Linked DNA regions of Homo sapiens. The protein of the gene in region 1 purifies or fractionates together with the protein of each later gene. This does not show direct contact. Each region holds a gene or a part of one and is shown in the gene's direction. Other genes may lie near its edges.

The links. Proteins that work in one complex are often made in the same cells at the same time.
Region 2: the proteins of TRIM43 (region 1) and PCCA purify together in Homo sapiens (affinity purification with mass spectrometry; one large-scale study listed by BioGRID and IntAct). This does not show direct contact.

What each region holds. Positions count from the first base shown.
Region 1 is NC_000002.12:95,593,826-95,598,505, forward strand, and holds part of TRIM43 (tripartite motif-containing protein 43), read left to right. Parts: intron 1-194; 5' UTR 195-198; coding exon 199-609; intron 610-1,224; coding exon 1,225-1,320; intron 1,321-2,376; coding exon 2,377-2,607; intron 2,608-3,503; coding exon 3,504-3,526; intron 3,527-4,054; coding exon 4,055-4,152; intron 4,153-4,680.
Region 2 is NC_000013.11:100,525,078-100,529,539, forward strand, and holds part of PCCA (propionyl-CoA carboxylase alpha chain, mitochondrial isoform a precursor), read left to right. Parts: intron 1-2,597; coding exon 2,598-2,675; intron 2,676-4,462. UniProt on the Homo sapiens protein: This is one of the 2 subunits of the biotin-dependent propionyl-CoA carboxylase (PCC), a mitochondrial enzyme involved in the catabolism of odd chain fatty acids, branched-chain amino acids isoleucine, threonine, methionine, and valine and other metabolites.

The sequences.
Region 1 (4,680 bases):
CAGTCACTTTTTATAGAGGTTGATGTCTCTTTGTGCCTTAGTTTTCTGTTTTTCCTATTTCTGTCATTGCAGATTAAAGCCTATACTTCTTTAGAAAGAAAGGATATTATTCGATCACGATCTGATTCAAACTTTGCTTGGATCTTTGTCTCTCCAGGGTAGAAGATTAAATTCCTGTGGTTTTCTTTCCTTAGGAAAATGGACTCAGACTTCTCACATGCCTTCCAGAAGGAACTCACCTGCGTCATCTGTTTGAACTACCTGGTAGACCCTGTCACCATCTGCTGTGGGCACAGCTTCTGTAGGCCCTGTCTCTGCCTTTCGTGGGAGGAAGCCCAAAGTCCTGCAAACTGCCCTGCATGCAGGGAACCATCACCGAAAATGGACTTCAAAACCAATATTCTTCTGAAGAATTTAGTGACCATTGCCAGAAAAGCCAGTCTCTGGCAATTCCTGAGCTCTGAGAAACAAATATGTGGGACCCATAGGCAAACAAAGAAGATGTTCTGTGACATGGACAAGAGTCTCCTCTGCTTGCTGTGCTCCAACTCTCAGGAGCACGGGGCTCACAAACACCATCCCATCGAAGAGGCAGCTGAGGAACACCGGGTAAGAGATAGCTCTGTGATCACCTGAAAGCTGGAGGGTGGCAGAGTTAAAGATATTAGAAGGATGATGAGAATCATGGTGATTACTCCATTCTTTACTGAGTGCCAGGTGCTGTTCTAGGTACCAATGATGACATTTTGAATAAAATGTGCAACTCTACCTTCCTTCATGGAGCTTGCACCCAAAAAGAGACTGATTAAGTAAATGTCATTATTATTGACTCTACAGTTCAATGCTAATGACATTGAAAAGCTACCAAAACTACCAGTGCAAAGAAAGGTATTTTGGAAATATATTTAATATTACTGGACAAATGAGTATGGGAGTAGCACACTACAAAATCAGGGGCTAGCATAGTGGGTTCTGAAGCAGGATGTTTCCCTGAACTAATTTAGCTGGGTTACAGGAAATCTTCACTCTTCAGTTCCCTAAGCTGTTCTACATTCTGAAACCTCAAACTGAAAAATATCAATTAAGGATGAGCAATGAAAAATTTTGTTTTTTTCTCCTCTCACTAATGTATTTATATATTATCCCTTGCCTGTGTATACCACTCAGATTGTGGAATCTTTGGCATTTGACTTTCTGTTGTTCAACCTTGTAATTCTTTTGCAGGAGAAACTCTTAAAGCAAATGAGGATTTTATGGAAAAAGATTCAAGAAAATCAGAGAAATCTATATGAGGAGGGAAGAACAGCCTTCCTCTGGAGGGTAAGTATGAGACCGTGAGTCCTCCTGACCAGCTTGAGACAGGCATGCTGACAACATTTATATTAGCAACTTGAGTTGAAATTCTTATGCCAGATTTTGTCATGTGTTTATTCATAGGCTGGAAAACAACCAGACTGTTCAACATAACGATTGTTCAGGTTTTCTGTAAATGCTTTTCAGATAAGTAAAAAATAAATATAAATTCTGAAGGGCAAGTATGTGCTTAAAATTAATAAGTATTTCAGACAGAGTTTTCTGTATAAAATTAATTATGAAATGTTGATTAAATAGTATATAATTGAGAAATAAAGGCATTTATTGGTGAATATGATATTGTCCAGGGGGAAGAAATCGGGTGGGAACAGTAATTTAAGAAATGTGCCTGTGCTGGTGAAATCTGATAGCAAAGGACCCACATGATGCCAGTCCGAGTAGGAGAAAATGCAACATGAGGAAAAGCTGAGGAGAAGGGATAAAAAATGACTGGGGCAGTGAGAGGATAAATATGTCATTATTGAGAGGAGAAACACAATGGAATGGGGATTAATGTTCTTAGAATGGCAGTGCAATACAGAGTCTATGGATTTGACAGAAGAAAGATAGGAGACAGAAAAGAGGTAGTCAGTTTGAGAGATGGGGGTTAAATTTTTTACTAAGATCCTTTTTGTGTGATGGCTTCTGATCCTGATTATAATATACTAAAAACATTTCTACTAAGAGTGATTGTTCAGGCTGTGAAGTACAGAGATTTGAAACAACAACCTAAGTGAATAACAAAGATTATGTGTATTATCCATGACAATGTAACAATCATAAATTTTAGTTGTTTTCTAATTGTATTTCCGATTTGATTTAAACATTTAAACCTAAAGGGCTTTTTTGCAGGTGTTTGGGAATTGATGAATTACATAAATTTTGAAGGAAGGTCTTGCTTAACTCATCATCCTGTTTGTAAAGGATGGAAAATAAAAGAAGGAATGAGGAGGATGAAGTTGTAGGCTCTGTGAGGTGGAAGTAGGCCTGGGTATATAACCTACAAAATTCATATCCCTACAGGGCAATGTGGTTTTACGGGCACAGATGATCAGGAATGAGTATAGGAAGCTGCATCCGGTTCTCCATAAGGAAGAAAAACAACATTTAGAGAGACTGAACAAGGAATACCAAGAGATTTTTCAGCAACTCCAGAGAAGTTGGGTCAAAATGGATCAAAAGAGTAAACACTTGAAAGAAATGTATCAGGAACTAATGGAAATGTGTCATAAACCAGATGTGGAGCTGCTCCAGGTAAGAATGGAGGATGCCCCTTGAGACACTTTGTGTTAGCTGACCTTTACATCTTTGCCTTCCATTGGGTACCAAAGACATTATTTCCTCATCTCCTGTACTGACGGTGAGAGTCATTCCCACCGGTTATAGAGATAAACTATAACTCCTACGCTAATCATGGAAATAAAGCTTTATGGAATTGTGCAACTAGATTTCCATACAACATTTTCTACCACAAGCTTCCTCCTCCAGCACATTTCATTAAAACTCTGGAAGAAAAAATTTCATGCTTGATTTGAGCCACATTACACTTTGGGGACTAGCCCTGAAAAAGACCACATTGTAGACAGCTGCAGCAATGCGCAGTCACTACTCACACCTTTCTCTCTCACTCAAATTTAGGGTCCTTAATTTATCAGAAATCCATATTGTCAATAGGTCTTACTGGTATAATTGTTAGAGATGAGAATACATTTTAAAAGAGTGGCAGTAATAGTATACGGTAATTCTAAAGTTTTGAAAACCTAAAGACCAGATAGGCAGAATAGCAACTTTTTTGTGTGTTTATTTTGAGACAGAGTCTTCTTCTGTCACCCAGACTGAAGTCCAATGGCCCAATCTCAGCTCACTGCAACTTCTGCCTCCTTGGTTCAAGCAATTCTCCTGCCTCAGCCTCCCTAGTAGCTGGGACTAAAGGCATGAACCACCACACCCCACTATTTGTGTGTGTGTGTGTATTTTTAGTAGAGACGGGGATTTGCCATGTTGTCCAGGCTAGTCTGGAACTCCTGACCTCAGGTGTTCCACCCACCTTGGCCTCCCAAAGTGCTGGGATTACAGGTGTGAACCACCTCACCCAACAAGAATAACAACTTTCTAAAGAAGTCATTTTTTTTTTCTCTCTCTCTCTACAGGATTTGGGAGACATCGTGGCAAGGTATGTTTTTGGCCGTCAGTGCAAACTGGAGCACAAGGCATGCTATGAAAAACATCAAGCTGTTTCCAACAAAGTGAAAACATAATTTACTAACACCATAATGTGTCAGTGTGATTGTGTGTGTATGTGTGTGTAGTCATGTGTTTATGTGGTATGATGAATGTCATCTATGCCTTTTATCAGACATTAATCTTTTCTTACTTTCCCAAGTGACTCAGGGGTTTATGTTTTGAAGAGTGCAATGCAGAGGTTGCTAGAATACAGTTGCCTCTTTTTGCGATTCAGAATCATAATTAGAGATAAACTATTTGGTGGCAGATAGGGAGAGAGGCATTTATCTTTCAGGGGCAGTAGGTTAGAAATGGAGTGAATAGTTAGAAAGATTCCCTAAGAGCCACAAACCCATCCTAGCGTTGTGGAGGTACATTACGGTATCAGAAGTGGGTTTGAATGAAGCATTTTCTGTTGGAATCTGTTTCTTAAACACAGACATCAGAAAGTTAACCAACTCAACCTACTTCCTTGCAGGAGTGAGTCCGTGCTGCTGCACATGCCCCAGCCTGTGAATCCAGAGCTCACTGCAGGACCCATCACTGGACTGGTGTACAGGCTCAACCGCTTCCGAGGTGAGTGTGGCCCTGTTGGTGGGATCCACATGCAATGCCTTCAATTATGGTTTTCTATGGGCAGCTTTCCCAGTGTAATGATCTTTCATCTAGAAGAAGAGAATAGCCTGTGAATAGGTATTTATATTTATAGTTTCACTATCATCAAACAGACAAAACGAAATAAAAGCTGGTGAAATGTAATAGGAATCAGCCATATAACAAATTTCTTAGAAAAATAAAACATGCAGAAGGGCTCTTTAGGACTTTAGGAACCATTCTCTGATACAATTTCATGTATACAATTATTACATGAAGTATACAGAACTGAATTCAGGACATTTCAATTTCAAATTCAGTGCAGTTAACGACTGATTTGAGTGACAGCGTTTTTTTAAAAAAAATACATTTTTAGGTGATGTTTCATAGCATTTATAATTTTAATCATGTTTTTAATCAACTAAAGCATACATGAGTAACTTATATAACAATGCAAAAACTGAGAATCTGTCAACAATAGGAACATGATTTGGTGGTTGATGAGGTCTT
Region 2 (4,462 bases), on another chromosome or scaffold:
CTAGTAGACACCACGAGAGGAACTAGGGAGGGGAAACAGGAATGAAAGGCGGATGGAGCAGGGAGGATCTAATTCTATGATTCAGTGCTGTGCTTGGATGGGGCAGAAGATGGGATCGCTTCAGTGGGGACACGCCTTCTTTAAAGTCCTTTGAATTGAATTGCCGGACTCTCACAATCAGACAGAAGGACTATTTGAATTTCAGGCCTCCCCACTTTTCCTGATTGTCTCGGGCTAAATCCGAGGTTTTTTTCTGATGAACAACTGGGGACCCAGCACTTGCAGTTACCTGTGCGTTACCTCTTTGCAAATCACCCACATTAGAAGCACAGAGCCAGCCAGAAAGATGGTCAGTGGCAGCCACAGCAGAGCCCCTTAAGCTCCTGTCCACCACCCACTTGCTCCCAGGCCCTGGCGGGGCCCAGAGTAGAGCTGTAGCCAGGTCAGGCTGGCCTTTGCCCCTAGCGTGACCTTGGGAAATCCCCAGGCCGCATTTCTTCATATTTGCAGTTGAGTTGCTAACGCACTCACTTGAAGATCCTGTAAAACAGAAGCAGGAGCTGCCTGCCTGTCTGGCCCGCAGATTCTGAGCAAGGGGATGGGAGGGGACGTGTGGTGGAAGGGCACACCTACTGGCAGAGAGGGTAGGGGCTGTGCCACCCATGTGAAGCCAATGTACTTGGCGGGGGGACGGGGCTCTGGCCAGTCCTGGGCCCTCAGATGCCTGCAGAGGAAGGGCTGGGTGGGTGTTTGGGAGGCCGGCATGCAGTCCCCAGGAAGCTCCTCCACCTGGAGAGAGAACAGTGCCCAGAGCGGGAGAGTGGATTCCTCATTTTTGGATGGCATTTCTACTATGTTCTGTTGAGTCTCAGATCCACTTCCCAGAGAGTCCCCGGTCCTGTTGCCTGAGTGCTCAGTCCTAGGTCAGAGTCAGTCGCAGTGAGTCCAGCTTCTAAGAGGACACGGCCAGGCTTCCAGGGTCCCCTGTGTGGAGCTGGCTGGCAGGTGTGCTGCAGTGAACTGGACCTGCTCCTGGATTCCCTGGTCTTTGCCTGCCTTTGAAGAGAGAAAAAAGGCTGTAAAATGCCAACTGGAGGGAGTGACTGTTCTGACACCCCTGATGGGGGCCTCTGCATTGTCTCTGCGCTGCCCCTCCCATCCCCCTGCAAACAGCCCTCGAGGCTGATTCTTCGCTCTCCCTGGAATGCAGATGCCACGTGAAAATGAATCAAAAAGGGCAGCGCGGGCAGCGCTTCCAGGCCCAGCTCCTCAGCGCGGTGTCTCTCCTCCGTGCCAGCGCCAAAGCCTTGGCATCGTCTCTCTTCCTATATTTCTATGCCAGGAAGAAGCAGCCCACCACCTGAACAGCAGAGGAAAAGAGTACATCGGCTCAGGCGCTCCAGAGTGCCAGCAAGACAGCTTGCGCCACACGGGGGGGCCAGAGGGGGACTTGGAGATCATCTGGGGATTTCAGGAAAGAACATTCTCTAGGCGCTTCTGAGGCATTGGACGAATATGGCCACAGTGGTGTGAGGGGCCAGGAGCCCCATGCCAGGACACCCACCCACACCACATAGCCATTGCCCTAGGAACCTGGACTTGCCCGTTTCAAAGACTGGGAGGCCAAAGAAAAACCTGGCCGGCTCAGGACGCTGACCCATCGGGGCAGAGCGAAGTGAGTGCGCAGCATGGTTTTCAGCTGCAGCTCACTCCTGCAGGGAAGCCTCACGCTTAACGCCAGTGGGCTTAACCCAGCTCAGCCTGGCTGCCCCTCAGGATGAAAGGCAAGTTCTGAACGCAGTCTGAGCAAAGGCCCGTGGGCGCTCCCAGTCTCCTAGCATGGAATGCATGTAGCTCTGGAAGTCATTCCTGTGTCTGGAGGGTTTTCCGGAAGCTGCCTTGTGCCTTGTTGTGGGTACTCGCTGTGTCTTGCAGAGGATGGGACAGTGGTCCTCGTGGCGCCAGGGCCGAGCTGTTCCCAGTTCCCCGGGACTATAGACAGAAATATGTATATTTGGTGGTGGTTTTTTTTTTTTGGTAACAGCTATACTGAGATGTAATTCACATACAATTTAGCCCTTTAACGTGTACGATTCGGTGGTTTCAGTCAATTCAGAGTTGTGTAGTTGTCACCACAATCAATTTTGGAACATTTTTATCACTCTCAAAAGAAACCCTGTACCCTTCAGCAGTGACTCCCCTTCCCTCTTCAACCCCAGGCAACCTCGAGTCTGTCTGTAGAGATCTGCCTATTCTGGACATTTCAGGTAAGTGGAAAACATTCCAATTTCCGAACACCTCTGTTAGTGGCAGAGCCAGACTCAGAGATCCCCAGGGTAGGCCCCGCCGCCAGGGTCCCCACTTCTCCAGGGTCAGGGATTTTTTTTTTTTCCAACGAGGACTTTATGAGAGAGAGAATGGCTTTTCTCTACTGTTCCTAAAGATGAGCTTGGAATAGGAAACATTAGAGATTGTTGCTGCTGTTCATAGACACATATTTTGGGGCATTTGACAAAGAATTTCTTAATGGCTTCATTCCTAAGTGTTAATGCAAAATTAGAATGCTTTTAAAACTTCTGCCCATTTTTGTTTTCCAGGTAGCAGAAGGTCAAGAAATTTGTGTGATTGAAGCCATGAAAATGCAGAATAGTATGACAGCTGGGAAAACTGGCACGGTGAGTCCCTAAGTCCCCATCAGCCCAGGCCGGCCCTGTGATGGAGGAACGCCCACCTTTGAATCGTGGGTGGTTTGGCTGGAAAGGGCCACAGAGGCGCCCTCTCCCCCTCGCTTCTACAGAGGAGGACGTTAGGATTGGGAGCTTTTGCCATTCTGCCCTGATGCATCCCTGCCTCGTAGAGAGCGTGGCTTCCAAAAAGTCTGTGCTTTATGTTCAGGTAGTCAAAGAACAATTGTTCTTCACCTTAATGTCTTTCTTTCAAATTAAGGGGTCTTTAATTTTTAATGTTTACATCTGTCTTGAAGGCAGTTAGTTATCTGAGACTTAGGTGACACAGCAGCAAATGGTTTTACAAATTGCAAAAATTAATGTAACTCTTCAAGACAATTTCTCTACAAAGGGAACAATTCAGTTGCAGATCAAGAGAAGCCAAAACCCCATGTACATGTGGGACTTAATTATTTAGGGAGAAAAAAATATTAGTACTGAAATTCATTCATAGTGAAACTTAAGTGTATTTTTTTCTTGAAGATAGAAAAGTCCTTTTAAGCAGTAACTTCATTATTCTTCCTGTGACTAAAAAGACTGAAAAGATGCCGTTAGTAGGTAAATGATCCTTTTGTGAGGGCCGTTGTGGTTTGGAAGTGTCTGCATGGGAGAGCATGATGGGAAGCGCAAGGCTGGCCGTGTTCTGCATGTGGCCATGCCTTGGGGACATCAGGTGCAAAGAGAGATCCATCAGTTCATAACCAGGTTTGCATCAGAGAGACACACAACCTCTGTCTCATGCTCTGTCACTGCAGAAGGCAATGAAATGGATTCTCAGAGAAGGGGCAGCGGGGATGTCATGCCTGGTCCCGGCTGGGAGAACAGAGGCCCAGGTGTATGCCAGGGGCTCCTGAGCCCAGCCCGCCGGTCTGGAGGGGTGTGGACAGTTGCACTGTGCTGGTATGGTGTGAAGAGTAGAATGACATGATTTGTGGCGTTTTTAAGGAATTCTTTCTAAATTACTTCTTTAAAAAGTGAACAAGAAAATGTTGGTTTCTGTTCATGTAAAAATTTTATCTGTTCTTTGGGATTTAACATTTGTGCTGCCCTAGTATCACGACATCCATCCATGATGAGAACTTGGCCTAGGTGTGGGGGACCGAGAACGTGTGTCCGCCGCATGCCAAGGGCCCTGTGCGGCAGGTCTGAGGTGCTAATGCAGAAATGACCTTGGCCTCATCAGTTCCCTGAAGGGGCATGGTGCCATGTGGTAGTAGGTTTCCTGTCCTCGTGGCCTGGGTCTCCCTCGGCCCTCCTAGTTGGAGTCTTCCTGTGCATTCTGTTCACCTCACCCCATCCCCAGGCCTCTCAGTTCCAACCCAGCCAAGAAGAGCAGAAGTGGCCCGAAGCCCCCGTGCAAAGTAGCAGGCCCTGGTTCCTACCTGCGAGGCCACTTTTCCTCCCAGAGAAAAAAAGTTCACAAAGGAAACAGATCCTCTACTCTGGTCATCGCTGCATCACTAACACTGCGTCCTCTAGTAGGGCTGCTAAATGGAGGCAGGAGCATTGTGGAAAGCAGCCTTTTCAGTCCAAGCAGCATCTGCAGTGGCCGATGAGTTCTAATCCATTTTTCATTTTCAGGCCCAAGCAAGAGCCTCCAAGAAGTCAAATGACTGTCTCTTCCCCACCTCAAGCCCCTCCTTGCTAATTTTAAGTCAGAACACAAATTTCGGAAAGCAAAACTTGATAAAGATTGACTGAAACCGGTAGGACAAAAAGGCACAGTTCCACCCACC